Linked DNA regions of Homo sapiens. The protein of the gene in region 2 interacts with the protein of the main gene of each other region in a pairwise test. Each region holds a gene or a part of one and is shown on either strand. Other genes may lie near its edges.

What was found.
Region 1: the proteins of GOLM1 (region 2) and NINJ1 interact in binary tests that used the Homo sapiens proteins (3 or more experiments, as listed by UniProt).
Region 3: the proteins of GOLM1 (region 2) and GUCA2A interact in binary tests that used the Homo sapiens proteins (3 or more experiments, as listed by UniProt).
Region 4: the proteins of GOLM1 (region 2) and TMPO interact in binary tests that used the Homo sapiens proteins (3 or more experiments, as listed by UniProt).

The regions. Positions count from the first base shown.
Region 1 is NC_000009.12:93,127,752-93,131,251, reverse strand, and holds part of NINJ1 (ninjurin-1), read left to right. Parts: intron 1-3,500.
Region 2 is NC_000009.12:86,026,559-86,030,058, reverse strand, and holds part of GOLM1 (Golgi membrane protein 1), read left to right. Parts: intron 1-2,165; coding exon 2,166-2,242; 3' UTR 2,243-3,500.
Region 3 is NC_000001.11:42,162,190-42,166,007, reverse strand, and holds GUCA2A (guanylin precursor), read left to right. Parts: upstream 1-1,262; 5' UTR 1,263-1,295; coding exon 1,296-1,370; intron 1,371-2,397; coding exon 2,398-2,605; intron 2,606-3,037; coding exon 3,038-3,102; 3' UTR 3,103-3,318; downstream 3,319-3,818.
Region 4 is NC_000012.12:98,539,590-98,543,089, forward strand, and holds part of TMPO (thymopoietin), read left to right. Parts: intron 1-3,500. UniProt on the Homo sapiens protein: May help direct the assembly of the nuclear lamina and thereby help maintain the structural organization of the nuclear envelope. Possible receptor for attachment of lamin filaments to the inner nuclear membrane.

The DNA of each region.
Region 1 (3,500 bases), 7.1 Mb from region 2:
CAGCACTTCCTGCTGTCTTGCTGGGGTTTCCTGCCAGGAACACAGACATGGAGCTGGGAGACCCTCTCAGGGCCTGCTTCCTGGGCTGGCCGGTAGGAGACGGTGCAGGGCTCCAGTGCCAGGCCCTGCCTGTCTGTGTGGCATCTGGGGAATGGGCACAGCAGCTCATGCCCACACTGGTGGGTCAGACAAGGGATGCCGGAAGCCCCAGGCAGGTCCTAGCATATGGTGGGGTAGAAGAGGGGTGCCTGATTTTCAGGTCGCCCCACCATCTGCCAATGCCTGCTGAGTCCAAGGGTTAGGGCCAGTGAGCAGGACAGGCTGCGAGCAGCCAAGGTGTAGACTGGGACCCCCCAGGCACCCAGGGCAGGCACCTCGTCCCTGTTGTCCCCCTGGGTCCTGCTCAGCACAGGAGAACCTGTGCCCCAGGCTGTCCTTTCTTTGCTGTGTGACTGTTTTGTGAGCCTGTTCAGCTGCTTTTGAGTCAGTGGAGTTGGTCGGGGAGGCAGAGTCTTTCAAAACAGTGAGAGCCAGGCATCAAGGAAAACAGCCCTGCCACCCACTGCCATGCGCTCCACCAGCCACGGGGCATCTGAGACCACCCCATTCAGTCCCCTCCACATCCTTGTCTACCCATTTTACAAATGAGGAAACTGAGGCATAGAGTGGTCAGTGTTGAGGCAGGACTCGGGGGGTAAAGGAGGTGCTGTGGCAGCTTCCAGCCCTACTCCTCACAGGCCCCTGGAAAGGGCGACTGATATGCATCACCACATTTGTGGGCCCACAGCCCCGACCCTGTCTCCTCCCATCCAAGCCCTGGGTGAGCCAGAACACCCATTATGCTATGGCCAGAGCCAGGCCGGTGGATGCAGCAAGCCTGGTTCATATCCCACTTCTGTGCCAGCCCCTCCTGCCTGAGCTGAGGATGCTCACTGAAGTGGCCCTAGGACCGACCGTGTGGCCCAGCCCCAACATGTGCAGCCTGCAGTGGGGAGGCCGACCGTCCACAGAAGGTTGCATGAGGAGCCAGCCACGCCCCTACACAGAGCTGACCTCCTCACCAAGCCTCCCTCCTAGCTTTCAGAGGAAATATATCTGGCCTGGCCCCAGGCCCCGAGTGCTGCTGAGGTTCTGGGAATCTATTAACCAGGGTGTTTATTCCCTGCCCTGCCCAAGCCATGGGCACTGGTCTCAGCAGGGCTTAGCTCCTGGCAGCTCCTGCTGGCTGGTCAGGACCACAGGGCTCCCTCACCTGTGGTAGCTGGGTCCCCCGGCCACCCTCAGGCCCATCCCAAGATAGAGGCAAGTGCCCAGGACTGGGGGAGAGTGGGATCGTCCTCCCTGGGACCCTCCTGTGTGGTGGTCAGCTCAGGGCTCCAAGGCCCAGAGTACCAAGGTTAGGGACAGGGAAGCAGACTGTCCCTGCTGCCCTCCCCTCCACATGATGCTCCCAATGTGGCCTGCTGCCTGGGGTGGTTGCCAGCTATGCTGTATCCTGGGGCAGCCCTATGCTTTGGGACACACAGTCCTGGGAGATGGCTCTGGGAAAACCTCCTCTGAGCTGCAATCTGCTGGTCTGTAGAATGGGAGAGGAACACAGCCTCTCCCTTGGTAAGCAGGAGTTTCCCAGGTGCAACCCTAGATATACGGAGGGGGAGACTGAGGCCAACGGAGGGGGAGCTTGCGTCAGGGCCACGGGCTGGGCTGTGGTGAGCCAGGGCTTGACCTGCATGCAGAAGCTTCCCTAGCTGCAGGTTGGACAGGAAGCAGATGGCCGGATGGGCTGGAAGTGCCCTTCACCAGCAGGGGTGCATGGTCAGGGCATTTGCTGGCCACTCGGGGCTCAGAGGCCATCCTGGGGCATCTGCTCCACAGCCTCGTGGTACACATGGAAGACTGAGGCACAAAGTGGGGCTAGTTGTCCGGACACAGCTGGAGCCTGAAGCAGGGAGCCATTGAGAGTTCAGCCCCTAAGGGACAATGGCATCAGCTACCAGAGCTTCTGAGCCCCGGGGCCTGGGTTCAAATCCTAGCCAAGCCCTCACTTGCTATGTGGCTTTGGGTAAGGAACCGCCTTTGCTGGGCTTCAGTTTACCCACCTTAAGTGGGCATGAGGACAGCAGGGGCACAGGCTCCTCGTGGCTGGGGGTGCTGAGAGCTGAGGCTTGGGGAGCTGGAGGCTCTGCGCGGATGGTGCTTTTTAATGGATCTGAGTGTTCCTCGTGACTGCATGGCTGTGAAATATTTAAATGGTTCTGCAGAGCTCAGAAAAAAAGGGAATTCTTCCTCCTGCCCAGAGGCCAACACAGTTAGCCTGGGCTTGTGTGTCTGTTTATGTACGTGTGCATATGTATGTATGTGCATGTGTATTTGTGTGTGCGTATTGTGTGCACATGTGTGTCTCACGTCTATGTGTGTCTTTCTGGGGGATGTGTGTTTCTGTGCTTTTGTGACTAGGAACACGCACATATATGTGTAGATGCCCCCAGAAGGTGGAAATCCTCACGGGGTCTGCACTTGGCCTTCTCCCAGCACCAAGTCCTGGGATGGAGACCCGAATGAGCATAAGGGTGGCCTTGAAGGAAGGCACTTTGGCACTTGAGGTTTGTGAAACTTAGGAGCACATGCCCACTGTGGCCAGCAGCCCCTGGGACACTGCACCTTGCGGAGCACACGTGTGATGGGGTGTGGCCCACTGGGCAGCTTCGCAAGAGCAGAACTGGAGACGACCTCAGTGCCAGGCACAGGCCCTTGTGTCCGGGCTGTCCTCACCCAGACCCTGGGCAGCCTGGGAGGAAGCCCCTAAGTGGACAGTGGTGGGACAGGGACACACAGTCCTGGGAGGTGGCTCTGGGCAAACCTCCTCCAAGCTGCAATCTGCTGGTCTGTAGAATGGGAGAGGAACACAGCCTCTCACTTGGTGAGTGCCCTGGCTGTGCTGGGGCCTGGGGGAATCCCAGGGAGTGCAGCGTCAGGCCCAGGGTGGGAGAGGCAAAGTAGACACCCCATAGAGGCTTCGGGGTATGCATGGAGTGACCCGAGAGCACACCAGGGCCCCAGGGACAGCGCTGCTGGGTGGCCCAGGTAAAGGCGGCTGTCCCTGTGCGCACATGTGTCCACGTGAACTTGCTACTTAGAGAGCAGCTGATGCTGAAGGCAGGTTGTTGGAATTCCCAGGCCCAGGTGTAAGCAGCAGAGCCCACCAGTGTCCCCTGACGCCCACTCTCTTCCTCCTGGGCACATAATTTTAGATGAAACTGAAAAACACGCAGCATGAAAGCAAGGCCCCTGCCCTCTGCTGGTTCTGTATTGGCTGCCTCGTGTATTTTTCCAGCCTGCAGAAAGTCGAGGCCTGGATGGATACCATGTCCGCCCCTCCCTGTGGCCCTGCGGCACCCCGGCCTCCCGGCCTGCATCTTTCATGAGTCTGGAAACAGGATCTCCCAGAGAGGGCCCCAGGAGGTTGGCTGCCAGCAGTGGGTTCTCACAGCTGCCTCCAA
Region 2 (3,500 bases):
TGTATTTTCAGTACAGACAGAGTTTCACCATGTCCACTAGGCTGGTCTCGAAATCCTGACCTCAGGTGATCTGCCTGCCTCAGCCTCCCAAAGTGTTGGGATTACAGGTGTGAGCCACCACCCCGGCTCTAACCACCTTTTAAATTGGGCCTAGTTTCCTACTAAATGATGGGCTTTGCGGTGAAGCCTTTTTGGATCTCTCATTCCCTACACTCAGGTGTCCTAAGGACTTGACCTTGTGCAAGGTTTTAAACAAAGTAAGTAGGTAAGGTAAAGAAAATGAGTGCCTTGTCAGCTCTTTGAAGAAGCTGAAGAAATGTCAACATCAGCTTCAACATTATTTTAAGATTGTGTCATTGAAACAGTGAGACCTTACTTGCTCCAGGGAAATTAGAAGAAAAAAGCATTAGCTCCAACTTTATTAAGAGCCTTTAACAGATACCGTTAATTTAATATGGCAGGTATTTAATGGTCATTAAACTACCATTTAATGTGCCATAGTTATAAATCAAGACCGTGGTTTTAGGTTTTATTTGTGATGTGCCTTTTTATGTTTTCTGTGTGTTAAAAGGATAGAGTAAGATCAGATGGTAGAAGCTACATACAGACATCAGCTCTGTAAAGGGAGAGCTTTGGAGTCACAAGAGCTGTCTGAAGCTGCAGACAGCTCTCAGGAGGCAGCGTGTGCCATTAGAAGTGCAGTAGCAAGGGAGTCACGCCGCACAGGAGCGTGGTGATTATATTTAAAATGTCATGAGTGCACTTGATACTGTCCATTTTCTATGGCATATGGGGCATTATGTCACTGTTACAAACAAGTATGGAATCTTTAGGTGCTTCAGCTTTGTTTCATGGCACATTGTTGGTCATCCATTTGGACACTTTGAAAGGGGAGGAGTTCCAGCTGGGCGTGGTTGCTCACGCTTGTAATCCCAGCACTTTGGGAGGCCAAGGCGGGCGGATCACGAGGTCAGGAGATCGAGATCATCCTGGCTAACAGGGTGAAAACCCGCCTCTACTAAAACTACAACAACAAAAAGAAATCAGCCGGGCGTGGTGGCGGGCGCCTGTAGTCCCAGCTACTCGGGAAGCTTAGGCGGGAGAATGGCGTGAACCCCGGAGGTGGAGCTTGCAGTGAGCTGAGATCGCACGACTGCACTCCAGCCTGGGTGATAGAGCCAGACTCCGTCTCAAAAAAAAAAAAAAAAAAAAAAAAGTTCCCTTATCCCCTTCACAGGGCATGCAATGGGGGTATGGCTTTCTTCTTCAGTGCCCCACAGCTCAAACCCCTAGGGGAAGCATGCGGACGGACAGGTTGTGGGGAGGATGGGTTTCAACCCCGCGGCAGCATCTAGGGTTGAGTGGTTACAGCTCCTGGAGCCCCACTGGGTGTGTGTTGCAGTGCGTTCTTTCAGCTTAGCTGTCCACAGGCAGCTTGTGTTAATCAGTTCAATTAGACCCTCTGCCTTATCGCAAGGACAGAGGGCTTTCTGTATCCCAGGTTCTTGCCCTAGTGTACTGAAAAAATCAGATCATGTGGGCTTGGAGAATGAATGCAAGATTTATTGAGTGGTGGAAGTAGCTCTCAGCAGATGGCTGGGGAGCCAGAAGGGGGATAGCATGGGAAGGTAGTCTTCCTCTGGAGTCTGGCTGCTCAGCAGCCGGGATCTCCTACTGTCCTTGGCCGAATTTCCCTTGGCGTCCGAATCGTTCCACCATCAATGGCCTGCCAGCGTCTTTCGATGTGTTCTTCTGCCAGTGTGTTCCTCTTGACGTCCAGCCGCTTGTGTGTGTGCCCGCTGGGGTCTCAGGGTTTTTATAGGCACAGAATGGGTGGCATGGCAGGCCAGAGTGGTCTTGGAAAATGCAACATTTGGGCAAGAAGACAGGAGTCCTTGTTCTCATTAGGTCCATGGGCACAAGCCTGAGGGTGGAGCCCTTGCCAGTGACCCTGCCCTTCTCTACCCAGCACTTCCCTGTCCCCCTCCCATATCACCGTTGCCATCTTGTCCTTGATGAGGAATACAACTCCCAATTACAGTGTTGCTGTGGGAGATGCAGTCCTCTTTATGACAGTTTCTAGAAGTTGATAAGAAAATGGGACCTGCCTAGGGCTAGTATCTCATTTAATACTCTATAGAATATTATGTGTTTTTCCTTTTTAGTTTTTAATGTTGAAGATCAGAAAAGAGACACCATAAATTTACTTGATCAGCGTGAAAAGCGGAATCATACACTCTGAATTGAACTGGAATCACATATTTCACAACAGGGCCGAAGAGATGACTATAAAATGTTCATGAGGGACTGAATACTGAAAACTGTGAAATGTACTAAATAAAATGTACATCTGAAGATGATTATTGTGAAATTTTAGTATGCACTTTGTGTAGGAAAAAATGGAATGGTCTTTTAAACAGCTTTTGGGGGGTACTTTGGAAGTGTCTAATAAGGTGTCACAATTTTTGGTAGTAGGTATTTCGTGAGAAGTTCAACACCAAAACTGGAACATAGTTCTCCTTCAAGTGTTGGCGACAGCGGGGCTTCCTGATTCTGGAATATAACTTTGTGTAAATTAACAGCCACCTATAGAAGAGTCCATCTGCTGTGAAGGAGAGACAGAGAACTCTGGGTTCCGTCGTCCTGTCCACGTGCTGTACCAAGTGCTGGTGCCAGCCTGTTACCTGTTCTCACTGAAAAGTCTGGCTAATGCTCTTGTGTAGTCACTTCTGATTCTGACAATCAATCAATCAATGGCCTAGAGCACTGACTGTTAACACAAACGTCACTAGCAAAGTAGCAACAGCTTTAAGTCTAAATACAAAGCTGTTCTGTGTGAGAATTTTTTAAAAGGCTACTTGTATAATAACCCTTGTCATTTTTAATGTACAAAACGCTATTAAGTGGCTTAGAATTTGAACATTTGTGGTCTTTATTTACTTTGCTTCGTGTGTGGGCAAAGCAACATCTTCCCTAAATATATATTACCAAGAAAAGCAAGAAGCAGATTAGGTTTTTGACAAAACAAACAGGCCAAAAGGGGGCTGACCTGGAGCAGAGCATGGTGAGAGGCAAGGCATGAGAGGGCAAGTTTGTTGTGGACAGATCTGTGCCTACTTTATTACTGGAGTAAAAGAAAACAAAGTTCATTGATGTCGAAGGATATATACAGTGTTAGAAATTAGGACTGTTTAGAAAAACAGGAATACAATGGTTGTTTTTATCATAGTGTACACATTTAGCTTGTGGTAAATGACTCACAAAACTGATTTTAAAATCAAGTTAATGTGAATTTTGAAAATTACTACTTAATCCTAATTCACAATAACAATGGCATTAAGGTTTGACTTGAGTTGGTTCTTAGTATTATTTATGGTAAATAGGCTCTTACCACTTGCAAATAACTGGCCACATCATTAATGACTGACTTCCCAGTAAGGCTCTCTAAGGGGTAAGTAGGAGGATCCACAGGATTTGAGATGCTAAGGCCCCAGAGATCG
Region 3 (3,818 bases), on a different chromosome or scaffold from region 2:
GGTCAGGCCCTGCTCTCTCCAATTCCCTCTTCAGTGTTGACTCTCCCCACCCAGGAATTCCTGCCCAACCTCCCGCCCTAGGGCTGTCCTGGCATCGGGCCAGGTTGGCTGAGTAGAAAGATGACAATCCCAGGGCTACCCTTTCTCCTGTGTCCTGGGGATTCCTGCTCACAACAGCACACAGTGAATGCACGCTGCCCTGAGGGCGCAGTCTGAATGGGGTCAGAGTCTATAGGGGCGCGGGCACACCCAAGCAATTCCCCAGTGAGATCCGCGGAAAGGGGACTGTATCTGCAGGGGCAAGGGGGGCGGGCGGATTGGGGAGGAGCTCATTCGAGGACACCCTGAGGCTGCAGGGCAGGCAGGACAGGATGGGGACCAGCACAGGATGGGGACAGCCTGTGACTCAGACAGGCAGGAGGTCACCAGAGGGGCCAGGGAGGACCAGGAGCTGCTGTGGCTGCTAATAATATGGGAATGGACCTCTGCTGAGCACCTTCTGTGTGCCAGGCATTGAGCTAAATGTTTTTAAAACCTCACTTGATTCTCCAAACAGTAATGCCTACCACACACCTACCCCATGAGGTAGGTATTATTTTTGGTTCCCACAGGGGACACAAGGGACAACGAGACTCAGAGAGGGGAAAGCATTGGCCCAAGTTCACACGCCTCACAACTGGGCAGTAGGTGGAACGGAACCCAGGCTGTGCGGAGGGCTTCCTTGAGGTCGCGGCAATCAAACCCAGACCCTGACTTGCCCTGCAGCCTCCCCCGTGGAATTTCTCACATTTCCCTGAATATTCCAGGCCCGTCTCACCTCCTGGCTGTCCCTTTGGCATGAAATGGCCTTCTGTCCTCAGTCCCTTCTCTGGGAAAACTTCCACCCATTCTCCAGAGCTCAGCCCCCAGTGCAGCCCCGTCACCTCATCCTAGGATCACCCCACCCTAATCGCCCTGCGTTTCACTGTCGGGCTGGGCCCCCCTCCTCAAGGGCAGGGTCTGCCGGCCCCACACAGCAGCACAGGGCAGTCGTGAGTGAATGTGCCTTGTTGGTGAATGAATGCAGGACCCAGCCCGGCTGTGGGTCAAAGTAGGTGCTCAGGGAGGGGCCGGGGCCCCCCCTGCCTGGCTCTTATCTCCTAGGGCTGTCTCGAGCCTTATCTGATAAGGCCTGACAGGTGAGCAGATGAGACTGACAGAGGCTTCCAGGTTACTCAGTAACCTGCCCTCTTTAAAAGTCCCGCCGCTTCCCCCTGGCATCCAGAACAGCCACCCCTCTCTCGGGCACTGCTGCCATGAATGCCTTCCTGCTCTCCGCACTGTGCCTCCTTGGGGCCTGGGCCGCCTTGGCAGGAGGGGTCACCGTGCAGGTGAGTCCTGTGTCCCTACCCCGGCCCAGCTGGCTCCCTGCCCCTAGTGCCCAGGTCTGGTCCCCTGAGAGAGTACCTCCTCTTTGGGGCTGGATTGAGGGTGTGTGTCCCAGGCTTGGCCTTCTTCGAGGAGCTCCTGCTCAGTCCAGCCACACACACACCTTTCCCTTCAACTTTGGAGGAGAAAGAAACCCAGTGGAGGGAAGAGGAATAACCATATGGGGAAGGCGGGGAGTTGGCCAATTTACTGAGTGTCCTATGTGCCGGCTCCTTCCCCAGCCCCTCACTGTGGCTCCACTATCAACCTGGAAGAAAGGGATCATTAGTCCCATTTTACAGAGGGGAAAACTGAGCCTCACAAAGGTTCTGTAACAGGCCATGGGCACATGGCTGTGGGAAGTGCAGGAGCTGGATTTAAATCCAGACCTTACTCCTCAGTGGGTCCCAGGAACCACATGGACACCCTGGAGGTCCTGACAGATGGGTATGCCTACCAGTGCCAATGCTGGCGACAGGCCAAGCTGGCACCTAGCGGGGGCCCTGATCTCTATCAAAGCCAGATTCCGGGAGGCCTTTTATTGCTTCTCAAACCAAAACCAGGCTGCAGGCTGGAGCTGGGGGCCCAGTAATCAGCCGCACCGCTCTCAGGCAGGGGAAAGACAGCCTGGGCTTGGCCACGTGGAACTACGATGCCTGGGTGCTGGTCCTTTGCCTCTCCCTAAAAATCAGCACACTGGCTCCTACTCATTAGGCACCTATGGTGTTCCTGGAGCTTCACACCCATTTTCTCCATTCCCCATACAACATGCAGAATTTGCGGGTTCCAGAGTGTCCAGCATCACGGAGCCAAGCCAGGACGTGGGGCCTGAACTCTGCCCCTCACAGTGCCCCACTGTGGATCGCCTGGCTCCCATATGCCACGAACACTGCCTGTGAGCACCACTGGGCTGGACCGGGGCCAGCACGGGGGGCACAGCCAGGAAGCAGGCTGCAGCCTGGCCTCATGCTCTGGGCTTCTCTCTTCCAGGATGGAAATTTCTCCTTTTCTCTGGAGTCAGTGAAGAAGCTCAAAGACCTCCAGGAGCCCCAGGAGCCCAGGGTTGGGAAACTCAGGAACTTTGCACCCATCCCTGGTGAACCTGTGGTTCCCATCCTCTGTAGCAACCCGAACTTTCCAGAAGAACTCAAGCCTCTCTGCAAGGAGCCCAATGCCCAGGAGATACTTCAGAGGCTGGGTGAGCAGCCTCCTTCCTCTCTGATTGGTGGGGTTCGGGAATACTGTGGTGGCACTTGAGGAAGAGATGTGCTCTGATTGGTGGGATTTGGAGGAAGGGCTCAGCTCTGACTGGTGGAACTAGGGAGCTTGGCTCTGATTGGTGGGTCTGTTCCATGCCCACTTCAATTCCAAGTTGTAACTGCTGAGGTTTGGGAACTAAGACCATTCATCTGGTCTTAGTTTCCTCTCTTTCTGGTGGAATCTCTGCTTTGATTGGTTGGTTTGAGTGGTCTGTGTGCCCTGGTTTGGGGCGAAAAGCCCAGTAGGTCAGAGTACGGGCCTGCTGAGATTCTCCTGGGGCTGGGTGGTGACGTACAAGCTCTGGGCCAAGGGCGGCAGGGGCCTCGCGAGGAAATGCTGGTTCTCACGAGGCTCCATCTCTGTTGTGCAGAGGAAATCGCTGAGGACCCGGGCACATGTGAAATCTGTGCCTACGCTGCCTGTACCGGATGCTAGGGGGGCTTGCCCACTGCCTGCCTCCCCTCCGCAGCAGGGAAGCTCTTTTCTCCTGCAGAAAGGGCCACCCATGATACTCCACTCCCAGCAGCTCAACCTACCCTGGTCCAGTCGGGAGGAGCAGCCCGGGGAGGAACTGGGTGACTGGAGGCCTCGCCCCAACACTGTCCTTCCCTGCCACTTCAACCCCCAGCTAATAAACCAGATTCCAGAGTACTCTGGGTGTTGCCTTCCTTCCTTCCTTCATCCCCTAGTCTATCCTGCCCTGGAAGCTCGGGATGTAATGTACTAAGCGAAGGACCCCACTCTCCCTGCTAAGCTGCTCACTGTCCCTGGGGCTGCCACAACACAGAGGCGTGGAGAGGATCTGGATCTCCAAACCACCAAGGCAGCGGGTGGTGGGGAGGGTTTGCTTTTATTTCACATCTCCTGAGGTCACCAAGTTCACTGAGCCACATGTGAGCACGGGAGCCAGTCTGAGCTGGTTTGGACAACCAATACAGGCACTTGGCCCACTAGAAGACTGGCACCAAACTCTTGGGTATTCAAGGACTTGGCTCCCACCAGCCATGCTAGTGTGGCCTCCAGCCCTGACCACATCCCAAACCACACCTCTTGCCATTTCCTCTGCTGCTGCTCACCTCTCCACTGCCCGTCTTCCCACACTACTGTCCAGGCAAACTCCTACTCAGGGTCCAAGGCTTTCATTCCACGGC
Region 4 (3,500 bases), on a different chromosome or scaffold from region 2:
CAGCCTCCTGAGTAGCTGGGATTACAGGTTCCCGCCACCATGCCCAGCTAGTTTTTGAATTCTTAGTAGAGACCAGGTTTCACCATGTTGGCCAAGCTGGTCTCGAACTCCTGACCTCAGGTGATCCACCCGCCTTGGCCTCCCAGATTGCTGGGATTACAGGCATGAGCTACCGCACCTGGCAATAAATTGCTTTTGATTTTTTTTATTTTGCTTTTTCCTGGAGTATATTAAAGCAGTCTTTGACATAGTGTTTCACACATTAAAAAGTCAGCATTTTAGCATATATCTCTGAAAGATAAGTGCTATTCCAGTGACAATGCCAATATCACACCTAATAAAATTAATAATTTATTTGTATCTAATTCATGTTTAAATTTCTCTAGTTTCAGAAATGTTTCGTTTATGATTATGTTGTTCAAATCAGGATCCAGACAGGATCCACATATCCGGTTTGATTTTTGGTTGTTTTACTCTCTCAAGTCTGTAGCTGTTACCACTGTAACTTTTTCTCTTCCCTCCATTTATTTGGTGAAGAAACCAGGTCATTACAGAATTTCCCAACATTCTGGATTTGTTAGGTTGCTTCTTTATGTCATTTAATTAGCTTCTCTATACGCTGCATTTTCTGTAGAGTGGGTTAGATCTGTAGTGAGGCTATGCAGTAGACCTTTCTGTGATAGAAATTTTTCATACCTGTGCTATCCGTTACAGTAGCCACTAGCTATTGAATACTTCGATGGTGACTAGTGAGGCTGAGAAACTCTGTTTTGCTTTGTTGTTGTTGTTGTTTTTGTTTTTGTTTGTTTGTTTTTTGAGATGGAGTTTCATTCTTTTTGCCAAGGTTGGTGTGATCTCAGCTCCCCACAACCTCTGCCTCCCAAGTTCAAGCGATTCTCCTGCCTCAGCCTCCTGAGTAGCTGGGATTACAGGCATGTGCCACCACGCCCGGCTAATTTTGTATTTTTAGTAGAGACGGGGTTTCTCCGTGTTGGTCAGGCAGGTCTCGAACTCCCGACCTCAGGTGATCCACCCGCCTCAGCCTCCCAAAATGCTGGGATTACAGGCGTGAGCCACTGCGCCTGGCGGAAACTATGTTTTAATTTTAATTTAAATTAAATTTCAATGACCATATGTGGCTAGTGGCCTACCATATTGGACGGCACAGATCCAGAGGGTTGGTCAGATCCATGTCCAGTTTCTTTCACAAGAATACTTAAATGATATAGCGGCCTTCCTGTTACATCGTTTTAGGAGGTATAGAATGTCTTTCTGGCGATGCTAAAATTAGTAATTGATTTAGATTTTGAAAGATTAATCCATCTGTTATAAAGATCCACATTGTCCTTTCATTTAATGGTTCTAACAGCCATTGTCATATGATTATTGCCTAGGTCTATTATTTTGAGGTTTTTTTTATGTATTGAATTTATGATCAGTTACAGTCATCATTCTTTTTTGATGTTCACATTGTGCCATCTGTAGCCATTAGGAATTACTAAGTTGGTTCCTGTATTTTTTAATTCCTTCCCCCATTTATCTTTGATAGTTTCTTGTTTTCTGGAATAGTAAGACGTCCCAGGCTCATGTATACTTCCTGCGTCATGCCTGGAATCAGCCATGTTTCTAAGGAACCGTGATCCTTTTAATAGATAATACTATTTGGAAGCAACAATTTGGATGCTGACATGTTCATTCCTACTGGTTGTCATTGTTTCTGGGTCTTTTCAGTAGGTAGTGCTAGGTAAATCATGAATTAATGGTGATATTTCAAATTTATAAATACAGGCTAATTTTGGGTTATGTTATACTTGTATCATTTTTATCTTATGCTGAATATCTTGGTTCTTCAAATGATGTTGTTACTTATGTAAGTATCACAACATATATGTGTTTCTAAATAATACAGTATTACTACTAACAATAAGACTGTTAAATGCAATTTGGGCTTTTGTTTTCCTTGTCTTTAGGACATATCCCACTAGAATGTAATGTCAAAACACTGTGCTTAAAGTCACTTGAAAGAATTTTTTTGTGTCATACAGCCACCAACTTAATAGTTAGGTTTTTTTGTTCTCTAATGCTAGGATTGCTTTTTCTTTTATTATTTTTTAATTGTGTTGAGAGTATAATGTAGTTTTATGTAGGCAAAATAAGGTAGAGTCAGAATTTTGGCTTCTGTCCTTTTCCCTTCCATCTACAGATAAGCATTTTTATTGTTTTGATTTATATTTTGTTTCTTTTTAAAAATATAAGTAAATATATAGATTTTTATATGCTCCCCTTTTACATAAAATGCAGCCTGCTTTGTACATTTCCATTTTTAACCTAAACCTAGAGATCACTCCATATCGGAACGTAGCCATCTTCCTCATTGCTTTGTACAACTGCATTTTATGTGTTGCATTTTATGGATGTACTGTAATTTATTTAACCACTCTCCATTTGGTGAATATTTGAGTTGTTTTCAGCTGTATGTTGCTATGAATAATGCCAGGATGAACCATGGAGCAGCATTTTGCATGTGTCACTGCATATTTTTTGCCAGTTTATCTTGGGGAAGCGTACCAGTAAAATTGCTAGGTAATTTCACCATTACATTTCTCTGCATATGAGTTGAAGCATTTTGCATTCCCACCAGCAGTGTTTGAAAGTACTGTTCTCAAATGGAGGAATATGAGGCTTTTTTGTTTTGTTTTGTTTTTTAATAAAGTTAGTACGAGTAACCATATTGGTCATGTTTTACTTAAATTGATAGGCCTTCAAGATGGCTTTTAGTTATCTCAGGAGCTTTAGAAATTATCTATTCCCAGACCTGGAGAGATTCTGATTTAATTGGTTATGGTAGTTGGGGGCATTTGCTTTTTTTTTTTTTTTTAAAGCTCTCCTTGATGGTACTGTGCCACAAGGATTGAGAATCTCAGATTATAAAACTACCTTTCCGTCTATTCAAATAGTTGGTAATTTGACTATTAAAAACCACTTACTCTGGCCAGGTGCAGTGGCTCACACCTGTAATCCCCGCACTTTGGGAGGCCCAGGTGGGTGGATCACCTGAGGTCAGGAGACCAGCCTGGCCAACATGGCAAAACCCTGTCTCTACTGAAAATACAAAAAAATCAGCCAAGTGTGCTGGTGCGTGCCTGTAATCCCAGCTACTCAGGAGGGTGAGGCAGGAGAATCACTTGAACCTCGCAGGTGGAGGTTGCGGTGAGTGGAGATTGCACCACTGTACTCCAGCCTGGGCAACAGAGCGAGATTCTGTCTCAAAAAAATAAATAAAATAAAAATTAAAAAGCAGTTACTCTGTGTATGTCTGTAATTTGTTTACAAGTTTCTCTTTTGACAATAATTTTGCATTCAGCAAATACTTCCTAATTGATAGGATGAGGAACCCAGAGATTCAGATTGTGACTTAAAACTCTTATAATATCAATTCCAAATATAGATAAATACAAAACCATGATTTATGAGACTATGTCTGTAACTTGTGGGGTTTT